2 separate regions of the Homo sapiens genome follow, and region 2 is linked to region 1. A link means that fine-mapping ties the variant in region 1 to the expression of a gene that starts in the linked region. Tissue or cell type: uterus. Region 1 holds a variant in brackets; the other region holds the start of a gene. All regions are shown on one strand. Distances are from middle to middle.

Region 1 (8,111 bases):
CACCTGTAGACTTAAAGATTAACTAGTAGTTTTAATAATATATTGACTTACAAGTTTTACTTTTAAAAGTAACAAAGAAAGCTAAAAATGTTTTAAAATAAATATATTGCAAATTGTGGTTCTATTTTCCTTCTGACTTTTTCTTGTTTGTACTCTGCCTAATTAGCAATGTTTAGTAAAATTATAATTATTTCTAATCATATGAATAATTATATATTCTTGAATTAAGAATATGTCTAATAAGTATTTGAGACTATATATGAATTTTATAGTCTCTAATGCCAGATGTTCTAAATGTGCAAGCAAATGTTATTCCTTTCTGAATTAGAGTAATTTATTTTAAATAAAGAATGTTTATAGCACATATGAAATCTAGTCATAGTTTTTAGTAGGTTAGCTTTAGGGAAATTCTGTAAGAGAAGAAATGCATACAAAACCAGAATTTATTATACTTAATTTTTTTTTTTTTTGAGACAGGGTCTCACTCTGTCACCCAGGCTGGGGTGCAGTGGCGTGATCTCTGCTCACTGCAGCCCTGACCTCCCTGGGCTCAGGTGATCCTCCCACCTCCCACCTTAGCCTCACGAGCAGCTGGAACTACAAGTGTGTGCCACCGTGTCTGGCTAATTTTTGTTGTTTTTTGTAGAGATGGGGTTTCACCATATTGCCCAGGTTGGTCTTGAACTCCTGGGTTCAAACGATCTGCCCACTTTGGCCTCCCAAAGTGCTAGGATCACAGGCGTGAGCCACCGCTCCCAGCCTATACTTCACTGTTTTAAAAAACTTTTTCAGGTTGACAGCACAGAAACAAAGCCTAAAAACAAAACAAAAGTAATTACCTCTTTCCAACAGAATCATTAATGTACATTTGGGAAGAATAAGCACGTGGAACAGAAAACGAAAGTAAAAGAATAGTCACCCCTGAAGACAACCATTCTAATGAAAAGTATACTAACAATAACCCAAACTGCAAGTGATTTTTAAGTAGGAAGCTGCAGGAACTACTCGTGTTTAGTGGAAAAGTAAACAAATTGAAAGTAAAAAAAATTAAAAGAAGAATTTATAAAGCGCTTTTACCCAAAGCTTCAGTTCCATGACATGGGAATAATTATATGAAAAAAAAATGTTCCCGAGATTTTAGAACAACTATTTATTGTGTTTAAATGGTGGGTAGTTATAGTGCAATAACCCCAGGATAGAACTGTCTTTGTTGTGGAGCAAGATTAATCAGACAGGTTTGTTCCAATGACATTAATTATTTGAGTTCTATATCTAAATTGACTTGTTTTGATTCTATGAACCTTGTATTAGTTTTTGAAGACTGCTGTAACAAATACCACAGACTGGGTGGCTTTAACAACAGAAATTTATTTTGTTACAGTTCTGGAGGCTAGAAGTTGAAGACTAAGGTGTTGGCAGGATTGGTTTCATCTCGAGGCATCTCTCCTTGGCATGCCGTCTTCTCCCTTTTACTTCACGTGGTCTTCCCTCTGTGCATGCCTGATTCCTAATCTCCTCTTCTTATGAGGACACCAGTCATACTGGATTAGGGCCCAACTGTATGACCTCACTTTACCTCTTTAAAGATCCTATCTCCAAATACATTCTGAGGTAGTGTGGGAGTTAGGATTTCAATGTATCAATTTTGAGGAAACACAGTTCAGCCCATAACAGATCCCAGTATCTTTTGAATTATAACTTCAATTCTTATAAACAGCAGATTCAAGAATAAAGTATGTTTAATCAAGGCACAAATGGTATTCTCGCCTACAGGACACTGATATTTCACACAGTAGTGCTGAGTTACTATTTTGATTTAACAGTGTATGACTGTACATTTGATCAATGTGAATCTGCCCCTGAGGGGTTTTTCTACTCTCAGGGGTCTCAACAAATCTGGATTTTGAGTCTGCAGGGTCCCGTGCCTGACTTTCTCAAAGTCATCATTTGTCTCTTGTTTCACTTCCCATTAGAAGAATCCACTACCAAAAGTACTGTACTAGTCTAGGTTCCCCAAGCCTGCCATAAACAAACAACACCAACACTCACCTGCTGCCACTCTATGGGGAGTACTATCTCTGAGAAACAGAAGTGAGGAAAAACATGGAAGTGAGGCAGTAGGAGAAGGGAACACAAACACAGGTGTTAGTGAGCTTGTCATAGCTTTGCAACAAGTGCAGTTAATTGCTCGGTCTTTGAGGATATTTTCATGAAGGTCTTATGAATTATTGCACTTTAGAACAGCCTATCTGGGGGAAAGGAAGGGAGAATTTATCTACTAGCTTCATTTTGTGCTGTACCTCCTTGATCAAAGTTCACTCCTTAAGTAGGGTTGCCAGATTTAGAAAAATTTTAAAAAGCCCATGCTTATAATAAAAAGTAATTTATTGTTTGTCTGCAATTCAAATTTAACTGAGAGTCCTGTATTTTACCTGACAATCCTCCTCTCAGGATATTAGCACCTAAGCATTTCCAGGCAGCAGCTGGGGAAGCCAGAACCTCCACAGACAGATCTGGTGCACAGGCACAAAGGTCAGTTACTCCTTGTCAGTGGCACAGTGTACAGGACTCCTCAACATATAGCAGTGTGGTGGTGGTGGTAGTGGCAGCAGCAGCAGAAACTCTTTAGGACAACAGGGTAGCGCTAGGCCACTGGCCAGGAGGCAAGGCATGAGGAAGAGGCAAGAGGATGTAGGCATGGCTGCATGGATGCGGGATGATAAAAAACATAATTTTCTGTAAAAATGGGTAATTATTTATTATAATATCTCTTTAGTATCCATCATAGATCACATTATACTAGATACTGGGGATTTAGTAGTAAATAAGACAAAATTTCTGCTACGGGGAGTTTACAGAATAGCTTGAATATTGTGTGTGTTCTGATTTAAAGATGCTTAATGAATGCTAGTAAAATGAAATAATGTAATAAAATAAATGTAAATGGAGGTTTTTCTAAATGACTATTTTAGTAAAAACAAACAAAACCCCTCCATAACTATCACATGTATTGCTTTCTGGATGCTTCTGAAAAGAAATAACTCAGAAAAGTATTAGAAGGCCTCCATCAAATACTAGAATTATTATTTAATGAGAAAAAAATCCACGTGTATACAACATTTCAAAACAGAAGTTAAATCATTAAATAGTACTTTTTATTTAAATGTTTATAAGGCAGATCTATGAGAATGATAGAAAACATGGTGTGTAATTTGATAGCAATATTTTGGAGATTACAGAGTTTTAGTAATTACCAATTACACAGTTAAAAAGAAGATAATATATTCCAAGCAGATACAAAATATCTAATGAAAGATCAAGGCAGGAAAATGAGTATAACTAATTGACAATGGAAAATCAATTTTAATGTGAATTGCACATTATCCTTTAAAAGCTTTCAAAAGAAAGAATTATTGCAGTCTAGTTAATTCAGACAGTGTTAAATGGTATCAGGATAAAGAACTGAAGGGCAGAAAGAATTAATTTTCACTTCATGTAACACACCCAGATTTACAATGGCTTAAATGCAGGAAAAAGCAGTGGAAGTAGGGAAGTAGTCAAGGTCTTTCTGGTCTCTAATCTGCCTTACTCTTTGGGTGTGGCTTTGATCCTCTGGAGACAGCTGCCAGGGCTCCTGTTATATCCACAATCCCAGCAGCAAGATGAAGGGATGAAAAAGGACACATGCTGCCTTCCTTTGAGGAGACTTCATCTCACTGGCCAACACTCAGTCACATGTACACCTAACTGCAAGGACAGCTGAGGAATGTAATGGGCAGCCGCTTTTAAAGAAGTAGAGTCAATAGGAAGACAAATTCCAGTTCCAGCTCAGTCTGGGTATCTGCAAAGCTGCAAAAGATCTTTAAAGACAATTTCAAGAGAATATTTCCTTAAAGTTGGCAATTTGGAGATCATACAAAAGCATCTGCTTTTGTGATTTAATTTAGCTCATCTGGCCACTGGAAGAATCCAAACAGTCTGCCTTAATTTTGGATGAATGCATGATGGAAATTCAATAATTTAGAAAGTTAAA[A/G]AAAACTCAGTATGTTAGGCTGAACAAAACATTTTTTAGTAACATATGGAAAGAATCTCTGAAAATTAAGCACTGTATAATTTTCTCATACTAAAAAAAAAGTGAAGAACCCATTCATTCATGTAAAATTCACTGTTTAAAGGTAAAAACAGATTGAGTTTCCACTGAAATTATTACAGTTTCATTTAGGGCTAATCATTTGTCCTGAATGTACATCAGAATTTGTTTTACCCACTGATGAACAATTGAAGGTAGGGTGTCTCATTTCACAATATAAATCTTAACACTGTGAGGTGTGTTATACTATGTATGTATCTTGTTTTAAGTCATGGATTTACAAAATAATTTCAACACATTTTAGGCTGTTTACGTATTTCAAAACAGGGATTTCATAGACTGACACAGGAATAATTAGTTCAGTGTTCACAGTATTCCTAAATAAATATTTACTTATTACATTTATGATACTTTATTTAAAATACCACATTAGAAACTTTAAATATTTCATAAATAAATCTCTTTTTTGGGGGGAAACTGTACAGAATTTATTATGAAATAGCTTAATGGCAAGTGGTAATTTAGAAGAATTAAGTTATCAGATAGGAGATATATTAAAATATTTAAAAATTGGATATATTCTTGAAGCCCTTTTACACAAGTAATTTCTATAATTTGATTGTAATGAAAGTATAATATACCTTGTTACTATTATCAGATTAATTTTTGAAAGTAGAATTCCTTAATCAAGCCAAGGTTATGCTGCTTTATAAGAAATTAATCAGGTAGTTTAACACTAGAGCTCATTAGCCAACCTGTATGTAGCACAAAATAATCATCTCTGATAAATACCTATAAATATATTTTATTCATACTTTTAAATATTTTACAATTCAAATAAAAACCTTATATGTAGACAATCTGGGCTAAATTTCCATGTATGTTTTGAAAAATAATGTTAGCATGAATAGATTCATATTTAAATATGATTTTAAATACTCTTAATAGAGGAGACATAAGAAATATTTACATAAAAGCTAAGTAGCATGATACAGCTCATGGTTATTTTCCTCATAGGAAAACAATTACTTGATTTTTTTTTTTGCATAGGATTAAGACTGAGTATCTTTTCTACATTCTTTTAACTTTCTAAGGGGCACTTCTCAAAACACAGACCAGGTAGCAAATCTCCACTGCTCTAAGGTTCTCACCACCACTTTCTCACACCTAGCAATAGTAGAATTCAGTCCTACTTCTGAGGCCAGAAGAATGGTTCAGAAAAATAATGATTATAAAAAATAACAATTAAGAAAAATAATCACATAGAGGTAAAATAAAGCAACTAAACATCATAGTTTTGCATTTTTAGAAAAGCATTTAAACATTTAGAATTATAGTAAATATATTACATTTATTCTAAAACTTCAAAATTATTCTGTTTTTGTAGTACTGAAAAGAAGATAGTGCCATTTGAAACAACAGATGCATCTTTTATACATTTTCACAAGTTTGTTTTTCATATTTTTAAAGGCCCCATTTATCTGTAACAGTGGTATTTTTATTTAGAGTATCGGCTACTTAATATATACATGCAACAATATATGCTTTAATAGTCATTTAACTTTTAGGAATATTTCATCACATTAAGTGGTTAAGCATAGTGTTAAAAGAGTGGAATTTAAGGAATAAGAAAATATTGAAAATACGCTGTTATTTTCATTAGTTCACTATAATAGAATGTTTTTGCCCATAAAAGTTATCATTGCCCAACTGAATTCCTACCAAGAACTAACAAGTGATTCTCAAGTGGGGAGAAATATTATTAAAATAAAGAAAATAGAGGGCTCAGTTAGAAAGTACAAGATAATAGGCCGGGCGCGGTAGCTCACACCTGTAATCCCAGCACTTTGGAGGCCAAGGCGGGCGGATCACGAGGTCAGGAGATCGAGACCATCCTGGCTAACACGGTGAAACTCCGTCTCTACTAAAAATACAAAAAGAAATCAGCCGGGCATGGTGGCGGGCACCTGTAGTCCCAGCTACTCGGGAGGCTGAGGCAGGAGAATGGCGTGAACCCGGGAGGCAGAGCTTGCAGTGAGCCGAGATCGTGCCACTGCACTCCAGCCTGGGTGACAGAGCAAGACTCTGTCTTTAAAAAAAAAAAAAAAAAAAAAGAGGGTACAAGATAATAAAATTCACCAAGAGAACATTAGAAAATCATAAGTGAATTACCAAACTGACAAGGCAGTTGTAGAAAAAGAGTCACTGGTGGGAAAGGTAGCCTCTACTAAATAAAAGTCTTTTTATTGTTGGCAGTTGGATTCAGTAGTACCTACGTGGGTAAGTTTAGAAATGTTATAATTTCAGGAAGAGGAACGCATATAATTGTATCTTGCCTATAATTTTCTATTTTAATAAGGAAATAGCAAATTGGGGTGGGGGGAATGTAGGGCATTCTACAGTTTGAGCAAAATGCAATTAAATGTGGAAGGACAGCACTGAAAAATTTTATGAATAATCTGTATGATTATATGTCTCTAGAGTAGATTTATAATTAGCCACTTACCCTAATATCCTTCATGCTTGTAAAGTACTCCCTAATGAATGGTTATGCAGGCAGGAGAACTTCTCAGGAAGAGAAAAGGAGAAGACTAACTCTACAGAGATTTTTGAAAGACTCCGTGGGATCTCAGCAATTTGTTAACACTGCTAGGGCCCTTCACTGCATAGGGAGGCATATGGACTGCCATGGGTCTCCAGGCTCATGTTCCAAGCAAGAATAGGGTAAGTAACTGTGAATTACCCTACAAGCAGTAATAAGTTTATTATAATAATATTTTTATACATTTTTGGATGCACCCAACCCACTCTAAAGAATGTCAGTGACTTTATACAAAAGAGGAAGCATCTAGATTGGCATTGTGAACATAATGCATAGGGGCGCGGCGGGAGCTCTAGAGCCTAGTGGTTAAAACCGTGGCCTCTGGAATATGACTACCTGGACTTGAATGCTCACTCTGCCATTTATTAACTGCAAGACCTTTGAAAAATAACTTTTCTATCCTTCGGTCCCTCATGTGTAAAATGAGGATAATAACTACTTATCTCACGGGGTTGTTCTAAGTATTAAATGGGATAATACAAGTAAAGTACTTAGAACCATGCCTAGCACATCAGAATCCCTCAAAGAACATCAGTATAATCCTATACCATAGCAAGTGGTGACTGGTTAAGGTGCGACAAAGGTCAGCTGGCAGATTACTTGTGTGCAAACTTGATACTTTTGTTCTAAGTAGGAACTAGTATACAGTTCCTAGGATTGGTACCGTATTAGAGATAGCAGTTTTGGAAGCCAAATGTTACTGAATCCTCTTCCTGATCAGTATATTAATATGAAAATGAAACTGCTCTGTAACACAATAAAGAATAAAATCTTTCATGAGGTATGTATTATCAGTATGTATTTCATGTCTCAAATATATTTTAAATATAATTTCAGGTTTAATTTGTCTTTTTAATTTGTGTCTCTTCATATAATCACATTGCTTCATACAATTAATTTCATCCTTCAAATCCTATTTTATGAGAGAAATATAGGAATGCTATCATGCAGCCTTACCTAGATGCTAACATAACGTGTCCTTTCTTAAAAAAATGTATAATAATGCATTTCTACTTTTTAAGTTGAATAATTAAAATCTTAATCTTCAGAAAAAAATGTATATCCATTGAATTATTTTAAAAGCTTAAAATTCTGCTGGTTTGCAAATTGTTTTTAACATTATATCTATATTATTAACTGTAAGTATTTTTGCCTGATTATGAAATATAAAGTAACAACAGGGTTACAGTTGTGCAAAACAAAACAAAACATACCTAAATTACAATAATATGTTGACTAGAAAAATTCATATTGGCAAACATGACATTTGTGAAAATTAACTTGAAGAAAACTCTATCACTAAGTCAGTTGAAATCTCATTTAACAAGTTTCAACCCACGATAATTTGACAGCATACTTGTAACTGAACGTAGAAGTCATAAAAATAATGGCATGAGTAGAACTTTATATGGCAGCTGT
Region 2 (8,111 bases), 110 kb before region 1:
TATCTTAATTTTTAAAAACTAGAGATGGGGTTTTGCTATGTTGCCCAGGCTGGTCTCAAACTCCTGGCCACAAACAATCCTCTTGCCTTGGCCTCCCAAAGTGCTGGAATTACAGGCATGAGCTACTGCACCTGGCCACACATCTATTATAAAAACTTAAAATTTATCAAAACTTACACACACACTTACAGATCTTACATGGCAGCATTTGCAGTCAAGAGAAATGTAAGCAAATGTAAAAATGCAGTATTAAATCATAACTGCATAAAATTAACTGTAGTACATCGTGGAATACTGTAATAATTTCGTAGTTACCTCCTGTAACTATCCCGGGATCTCAAGTGTCCCAAGTTGCCACTTAAAAGGCCATGTGATGCTAATCGTCTCCCCATGAGCAGTTCATCTTGCCAGTACATTTTATAAGTCAGTAAAAAGTAATCTCTCACAGTTCTCTTGCATTTTTCATCATGTTCAGCGCTACACTGTAAACCTTGAACACCACCATGGAACCCATACAAAGTGCCACTAGTGATGCTGGCAGTGCTCCCAAGAAGTAAAGTCATGACACTACGATAAAAAGATGAATTGCTTGATATCTACCACAGATTAAAATCTGTAGCTGCGATGGCCTGCTATCTCAAGATAAATGAATCCAGAATAAGAATCAGTGTAAAAAAAGACAAAAATTCATGAAGCCACTGCAGCAGCTATGCCAAAAGGTGTGAAAACCTTGCACTTTTTGTGAATTAACTTTTTATCTTGTATTAAAAAGGCAACTTTTATGTAGATGCAGGATTCCTATTTTAAAAACATAGACTAATACAATAAAAGAAAAAGTAAGGTTACCATATGACAACTTAAAAGCAAAAGGAATGTGAAGGATCTAAAGCTAAAGAATTAATTGCCAGCAAAGGATGATTTGATAATTTTAGAAGGAGGTTTGACTGTGGAAGACAGTTCTAGATTCCTCAAGAATCTAGAACTAGAAATACCATTTGACCCAGCCATCCCATTACTGGATATATACCCAAAGGATTAAAAATCATGCCACTATAAAGACACATGCACACGTATGTTTATTGTGGCACTATTCACAACAGCAAAGACTTGGAACCAACCCAAATGTCCATCAATGATAGACTGGATTAAGAAAATGTGGCACATATACACGATGGAATACTATGCAGCCATAAAAAGGATGAGTGACATGGATGCAGCTGGAAACCATCATTCTGACCAAACTATCACAAGGACAGAAAACCAAACACCACATGTTCTCACTCATAGGTGGGAACTGAACAATGAGAACACTTGGGACACGGGGGGAACATCACACACTGGGACCTGTCATGGGGTTGGGGGCTGGGTGAGAGATAACATTAGGAGAAATACCCAATGTAAATGACAAGTTAATGGGTGCAGCAAACCAACATGGCACATGTATACCTATGTAACAAACCTGCACGCTGTGTACATGTACCCTAGAACTTAAAGTATAATTTAAAAAAAAAAAAGAAGAAATAGGTTTGGCTTTGGCTTTAGAAATATCAAGATAACAGGTGAAGCAGGTTCTGCCAACTAAGAGGCAGCAGATGAGTTCCCAGATGCCATTAAGAAAATCACTGAGACGAAAGAATATCTCCCAAATCAGGTTGTTAATGCTGATGAAAGTACCCTATTCTGGAAAACATGCTACAAAAGACATTAGTAAGGAAGAGAAGGGAGCACCAGGATTTAAGCCAGGAAGGGATAGGCTAACCCTACTGTATTGTGCAAATGCAGTTGTGTTTGTAATCAGGACTGTCCTTATCTATAAAGCTGCTAACCCCTCAATCTTGAAAGGGAAAGATAAACATCAGCTGCCAGTCTTTGTTGGATAAGAAGGCCTAGAGAACAAAAACCTTTTCTCTGGATTGGTTCCATGGATGCTTTCTCCCTGAAGTCAGGAAGTACCTTCCCAATACGAGACTGACTTGTAAAGTTCCTCTGCTAATGGACAGTGCCCCACCTCCCCGCTACCCAGAACCCCATGAGTTCAACATCAAAGGCACTGAAGTGGTGTCCTTGCCCCCAAACACAATGTCTGTAAATCAGCCTCTAGATCACGGGGTCGCAAGGACCTTTAAGGCTCATTAAACATGATTTTCTACGAAAAGGATTGTCAACCATGGAAAAGAACACTAATAGAGAAAACTTCAGGAAAATCTGAAGTTTACATAATTGAAGATGCCATTATTATTGAAAAAGCCATGAAAGCCATAAGCCCCAAACAGTAAGTTCGTGCTGGAGAAAACTTTGTCCAGGTGTTGTGTTGTGTTATAATTTCACAGGATTTACAAAAGAGCCAATCAAGGAAATCATGAAAGAGGCTGTGAATATGCCAAAAACGGCGGGAAAGTGGGTAAAGGACTTCAAGATATGGATCTTGAAGAAACTCAAGAGCTAACAGCCACCAAACCAGAGGAATTAACAGAAGACAGCTTGATGAGTGCTTCAGATCCAGTGCCAGATAACAAGGAAGAAAACACAGAATAAACTACCAGAAAAACGAACATTAGATAATCTGGCAGAAGAGCTCCTATTGTTCAGGACTGCTTTTGACTTCTTTTATGACATGGACCCTTCTGTGAAGAGGCACTGAAACCAAAGCAAATGGTGGAAGAGGTATTGGTACCCTATAGAAACATTTTTTTGGGGGAAAGAGAAAAGCAAAAGCATGACAGAAATTATGATGTACTTCCATAAAGTTACACATAGTGTGTCTGCCTCTCTTGCCTCCCCTTCCACCTCCTCCACCCCCACCCCTTCTGCCTCTGCCACCCAAGAGAGCAAGACCAACTCCTCCTCTTCCTCCTCAGTCTATTCAACATGAAGACTATAAGGATGAAGACCTTTACAATTCACTTCCATTTAATGAACAGTAAATATATTTTCCCTTCTTTCTGACTTTCTTAGTAACTGTTTCTTTTCTCTAGCTTAATTTAAGAATACAGTATATACTATATATATATTTTATATGTGTCAACTGACGGCTTATGTTATCAGTGAGGCTTCCAGCCAACAGATTATTAGTAGTTGTTTTGTGGGGGGAGTTGAAAGTTACATGAAGATTTTCAGCTGTGGCGGGGGCATCTCTAACCCCCATGTTCTTGAAGGGTCAACTGTATATCCAAAGCTACTAAAATACCCTTCTGGTATCTTTTATTTTCTTTTTTTTGAAACAGGGTCTGGTTCTGGTGCCTGGGCTCGAGTGCCGTGGCACTATCATAGCACTATCATTGCTGCAGCCTCAAACTCCTGGGCTCAAGCAATTCTCCCACTTCAGCCTCCCAAATGGCTGGGACTACAGGCACCACACCACCCCGACTGTTTTAAAGATGGGGTCTTGCTATGTTGCCCAGACTGGTCTTGAACTCCTGGCCTTAAGGGATCCTCCCACCTCAGCCTCCCAAGTAGCAAGAACAATAGGCTCACCTACCATGCCTAGTTCCTTCCTGTATCCTTTTCACTTGCTCAACCCTTCCTCTCTTCCTCTTTGCTCTGTACTACATGAAATACCGCCATTTCTACATGCCATTCTGCTCATGCTTTTCCTCTACTTAGAATGTCATTTGTTTTTCCTATCATAAATCCACCTAAACGTCATATTTTCTAACGTCTTTCCAAATTCCTCTAATCAATTCTCTGACTTTGCTGGCTCTCCCAGCAATTTGATTATATCTCTATTATTACACCTTTATAAATCTCACGCTGCATTTAGTGTTTACCTGTTTCCTTCACTAAATCAAGAACTTCTTGTAGGTAAAGGACTTACGTATTAACCTCTTAGGCTATTAAAATCAAAATAACTTAAGGAGTAATTTCTTAAATTCATAATCCACATCTCTAGTCATTTAGGATAGCTATTATAAAAAACAAATGGGATTTTTTTTTCAAGAAAGTTGAAATATTGACCATTCTGATATACTCGAGGAGAGTTTCTACAGTTCCATTAAATATGTAACACTTTTTTCCTGCTCTAGATTAATCAGATTCAGGGGTTTAGGAGCCTTACTTAAAAGGAGTATTTTACTCTGGTCGTTAGAAATAAAGTAATGGCCAAATATGACGCAGGCAACGTTTCAAAAAGCATTACTGATAGGATAAGATTTAAAAAATAAAAATTCAAAGCAGTTGTAAATTTTTACGGAAACGATTCTTAAGACCGACACCACACAAAAATCGACCTAAATGTTCTGCAGGAAGGCACATCAATTACACGCTTTCGTGTCTTCATAAAAATCCATTAGAAAAACCTTAAACAGCGCACTCAAGGAGAAATATATAAAAACAGGCTGTGGACATTAAAGGAAAAAAAACCACCACAACATTTGGGCCACAGCAGGCAGGTATCCCAGTTCCTCATACCACGTGCACACTATGTCTCTAAAGAACTTCAAACCCTGCCCCTGCCCCCAAACAACCGTCCAAACCACGCCAGGTACACACACCACTGTCACCGCTTACTGACAAAGCGCCACTACAGGAGGGGCGGAGAAGTCTATGGGAAAACCAAGCAAGGAAAAGGCCGCCACGAAGACAGTAGTGGAGAGACAGGGGAGCAAAGAAGAACCAGAGCTGTCAGCGCTAAGGGGACCAGGCTGAGGGGACCCGCACGGACCTTTCTGAACAACACGCAACTGCAATGCACCATGGCTGCAACAGGCCAGGAAACCTTCTTGCGGAAGCGGCACAAGCCGCAGTACAGCGCGGCCTTTTTACGTCATCCCCTGCCGCCGACGCGATTTCTCCTCCGCCCACACCTGCGGACTGGCGCATGCGTTGTGTGATGCTCTCGGGCGCCACCAGCCCCATGCGCTGTGCTTTGCACCCCACGGGTGGGGAGAGAAGGCGTTTTATCTATTAAAACACAGAGATAATCTCGAGAAGCCGTGGGACAAAGGACAGTAGGGCGTAGGTTGCGTGTCTCAGGAATTAACATTTTGAATGGAATGGAACTGAAGACTCAGCAGCCTTGGAGCAGCTTTTATGCTAATTGAGGAAACTAAGAATCTTCACCCTCAGCGTGAAAAAACCTCCAACGGACCATAAAACCAAACGTGTAAAAGACACAGAAACTCAACTGGGAAAAAAGAACCCCCAAAAGCCGTTAGTTCAGTGACGAGCTGAGTAGTCTCCAGCCAAAGCTTCCAGGAGACCATGAATTTAAAACTAGCGGCCGCACAAAGTTTTATTGAAAATAATGTCAGGATCTGAGATCTGTAAGAGGACTCTCCTGTGCAGTAAGAGAAAGAAGCTTGTTTACAACTGTCAGAAAGTAGCTTCTTGGAGTCGGGAAGACGGGTTTTTATCCGTCATTTGAAGCGTGCCTTTGTGAGAATTAAGACACGATGTGAAAAATCCCTCTCTCTCTTGATTACTTTTCAGGACCAGAAGAGAGTAGCTCTCCCCAACCCCTCATGCAGCGAAAAAATGTATGCAGCTGAAGTAAACGGCCCTGCACAGCGTTGCCAGCCGTATAACTCTTAACAACCCAAACTAATAAATCCTAGAAACCTTTCATACTTTGATACGATATGGCTCTGTGTCGCCACCCAAATCTCATCTTCATTTGTAATCCCCATTGTGGAAGTAGGGAAGTGATTGGATCATGCAGGGCTGTTTCTCTCCTGCCGCTCTCCTGATAGGGAGTTCCCACAAGAGCTGACGGTTTTATAAGTGTTTGGAAGTTCCTCCTTCTTTCTTCTCTCTCCTGCTTGCCATGTGAAGAAGGTGCTTGTTTCCGCTTCCCCTTTTGCCATGATTATAAGTTTTCTAAGGCCTCCCCAGCCATGTAGAACTGTGAATCAATTAAGCCTCTTTCCTTTATAAATTACCCAGTCTGCGCAGTTCTTTATGGCACTGTGAAAACTGACTAATACCTCAATGTGACAGTGTCTTCTACTCCTCACTTAGGACAGTGATTATTTGGAAAGACATGATGTGAAAACCCCGTCTTGATTACTTTGCTGCTACTGGACCTTCTGCTTACAACCACCAATCAGAAAAGCTGTAGTTGTCATTTAACCTGCAGTAGTTGTATTTTCCCTCTGTGGATTACTTTAATGTTGAATATTAACACCAGCAACAGATGTTGATTACTATCAGTGTTCCTACCTCTCATTAATATGAACATTAGGTTGTTGCTGTGTAGATGTTTTTAATTTAATGACATTTGCTGCCATTAAGATTACTATCTTACTAGGTTTTCCTATTGTGTCAGAATAGTGTTGAGCCCAATGTACTTATTTTCCAATGCCTATTTCTTGTTAGTGAACACAATCTCAAATACTTTTCTTTCACATAACATATACATGGGGAAATGATCACAGCAACTAAAAAAAAAAAAATGGGAGATTGATATAGAAATATCTCAAAATGATGAGGATCATTGTGTACTGTAAACAAAAAAGAAAGCATAATATTTACCTCTGACAAAATGTGGTCAGGGCCTGAAGTATTTATTATAACTCTCATTACCAGATAGTAAAAGAAACATTGTGTAACTGGAAACTGTCCCCTTTAAAATGTGCAGCTAAAATGAACATGAGGCAAAATGTTTAGGACACTATTCAGACCTAAGGCAGAAGTCATTGTTGGAAAATACTACTACTTCTGCCATGAAGAGGAAAGAATGCCTCCTTAGGGTTGCTCAGTTTGATGTATGGGCAAACCATTAAAGTCAGTGGCACTAAAGAGTCTTGAATAAAGTCCCAAATAAGCCATCGACATGACTCACAATTTGGTTTTAAAAATATTTTAAAACAGGCCAGGCGCAGTGGCTCACGCCTGTAATCCCAGCATTTTGGGAGGCCGAGGCGGGTGGATCACGAGGTCAGGAGATGGAGACCATCCTGGCTAACACGGTGAAACCTCGTCTCTACTAAAAATACAAAAAATTAGCCGGGCGTGATAGTGGGCGCCTGTAGTCCCAGCTACTCAGGAGGCTGAGGCAGGAGAATGGCGTGAACCTGGGAGGCGGAGCTTGCAGTGAGCCGAGATAGCGCCACTACACTTCAGCCTGGGCGACAGAGAGAGACTCTGTCTCAAAAAAAAAAAAAAAAAAAACAAAACAAAACCATATATATACACACATACATATATACATACATATACATATATACATATATACATATATACACATATATACATATATATGCATATATACACATATATACATATATACATATATACACATATATACATATATACATATATACACATATATACATATATACATATATACACACACACACACAATAATGAGGGTTATGAAAAAATTTAATATAGAGTTGTTCTAATTACAATTTTAAATAATTTTATTTTGAAGTACTTTTTAATTTACAGAAGTTACAAAAATAGCCAAAAGAGATTCCATGTAATCTTTATCCAGTTTGCCCGAATGTTAACATCTTTTATAACCATTTTTCAAAACTAAAAAAATTAATATTGCTAGAATATTAACTAAACTACAGACTATTTGCTTTCACTGGTTTTTCACCTATGACTTTACTCCAGGGTCTAATACTAACACCACATTGCATTTAATCTAACATTTAATGTAGATACACTTAAGCATAAAATAGACAAATATATAATTAACAAATCTAATATTTTGTGATGTTATATTGCTTAATTTTGTCAGCAGACTAAAATGAAAAGTGTCTAACTTCATTCTGGGCTTTGCAGATTATTTCAATTGATCTTGTGTCATCATCTCAACTGCTTTTAATTAGATTTCTACCTTTTGTCTATCATGCTTTTAGTTCTGCTTGTTCAAGAGTCCCTAACAAGGTCCGTCTGGCTCAGGCCTTGTAATCAGTAGATACTCTAGGAATATTTGTTAATTTATTCAAACGAAAGACAAGAACTAGATTGCTAACTCCTATAGCATACGAATCACCTGAAGTGGAGCATCGAGTTATTCTTACTCATTAGCCTTATAATCCTTCAGATGTAACAAATCAAATATTATTTGTTTCATGCCGTCAAAATATTACAAGTCTGAGAACCATTATATCTCCCAAATGATGAAGTTAAATGGATCAAACAAATGAGGTTTACATACTAGG

Alleles and levels. Alleles are on the strand shown, and positions count from the first base shown. SD is a standard deviation of normalised expression in the study named.
For the expression in uterus of the gene that starts at base 4,719 in region 2, allele G in region 1 goes with a lower level than allele A (moderate effect, 0.60 SD a copy in GTEx).

The links. PIP is the estimated chance that this variant, and not a neighbour inherited with it, causes the effect.
Region 2: GTPBP10 starts here. The variant in region 1 is fine-mapped to the expression of GTPBP10 in uterus (GTEx, PIP 0.96).

Annotation. Positions count from the first base shown.
Region 1 is chr7:90,232,640-90,240,750 of GRCh38, reverse strand. It overlaps STEAP2 (STEAP2 metalloreductase), which reads right to left. Exons shown (of 6, transcript NM_001244944.2): 6 at 3,068-8,111. It overlaps LOC107986819 (a long non-coding RNA gene), which reads left to right. Exons shown (of 2, transcript XR_007060423.1): 2 at 1-3,164. Among named protein-coding and RNA genes, the nearest start is that of CFAP69, 8.5 kb to the left of the region's middle. RefSeq lists a silencer at 5,986-6,191. The variant A/G (reference allele first, on the strand shown) is at 4,034.
Region 2 is chr7:90,343,324-90,351,434 of GRCh38, reverse strand. It overlaps GTPBP10 (GTP binding protein 10), which reads right to left and starts at 4,719. Exons shown (of 10, transcript NM_033107.4): 1 at 4,661-4,719. The coding sequence starts at 4,693. The region is part of intron 1 of LOC107986715 (a long non-coding RNA gene); the gene reads left to right. It overlaps LOC101927446 (a long non-coding RNA gene), which reads right to left. Exons shown (of 6, transcript NR_110085.1): 6 at 7,341-8,111. RefSeq lists enhancers at 4,474-4,903, 5,114-5,253.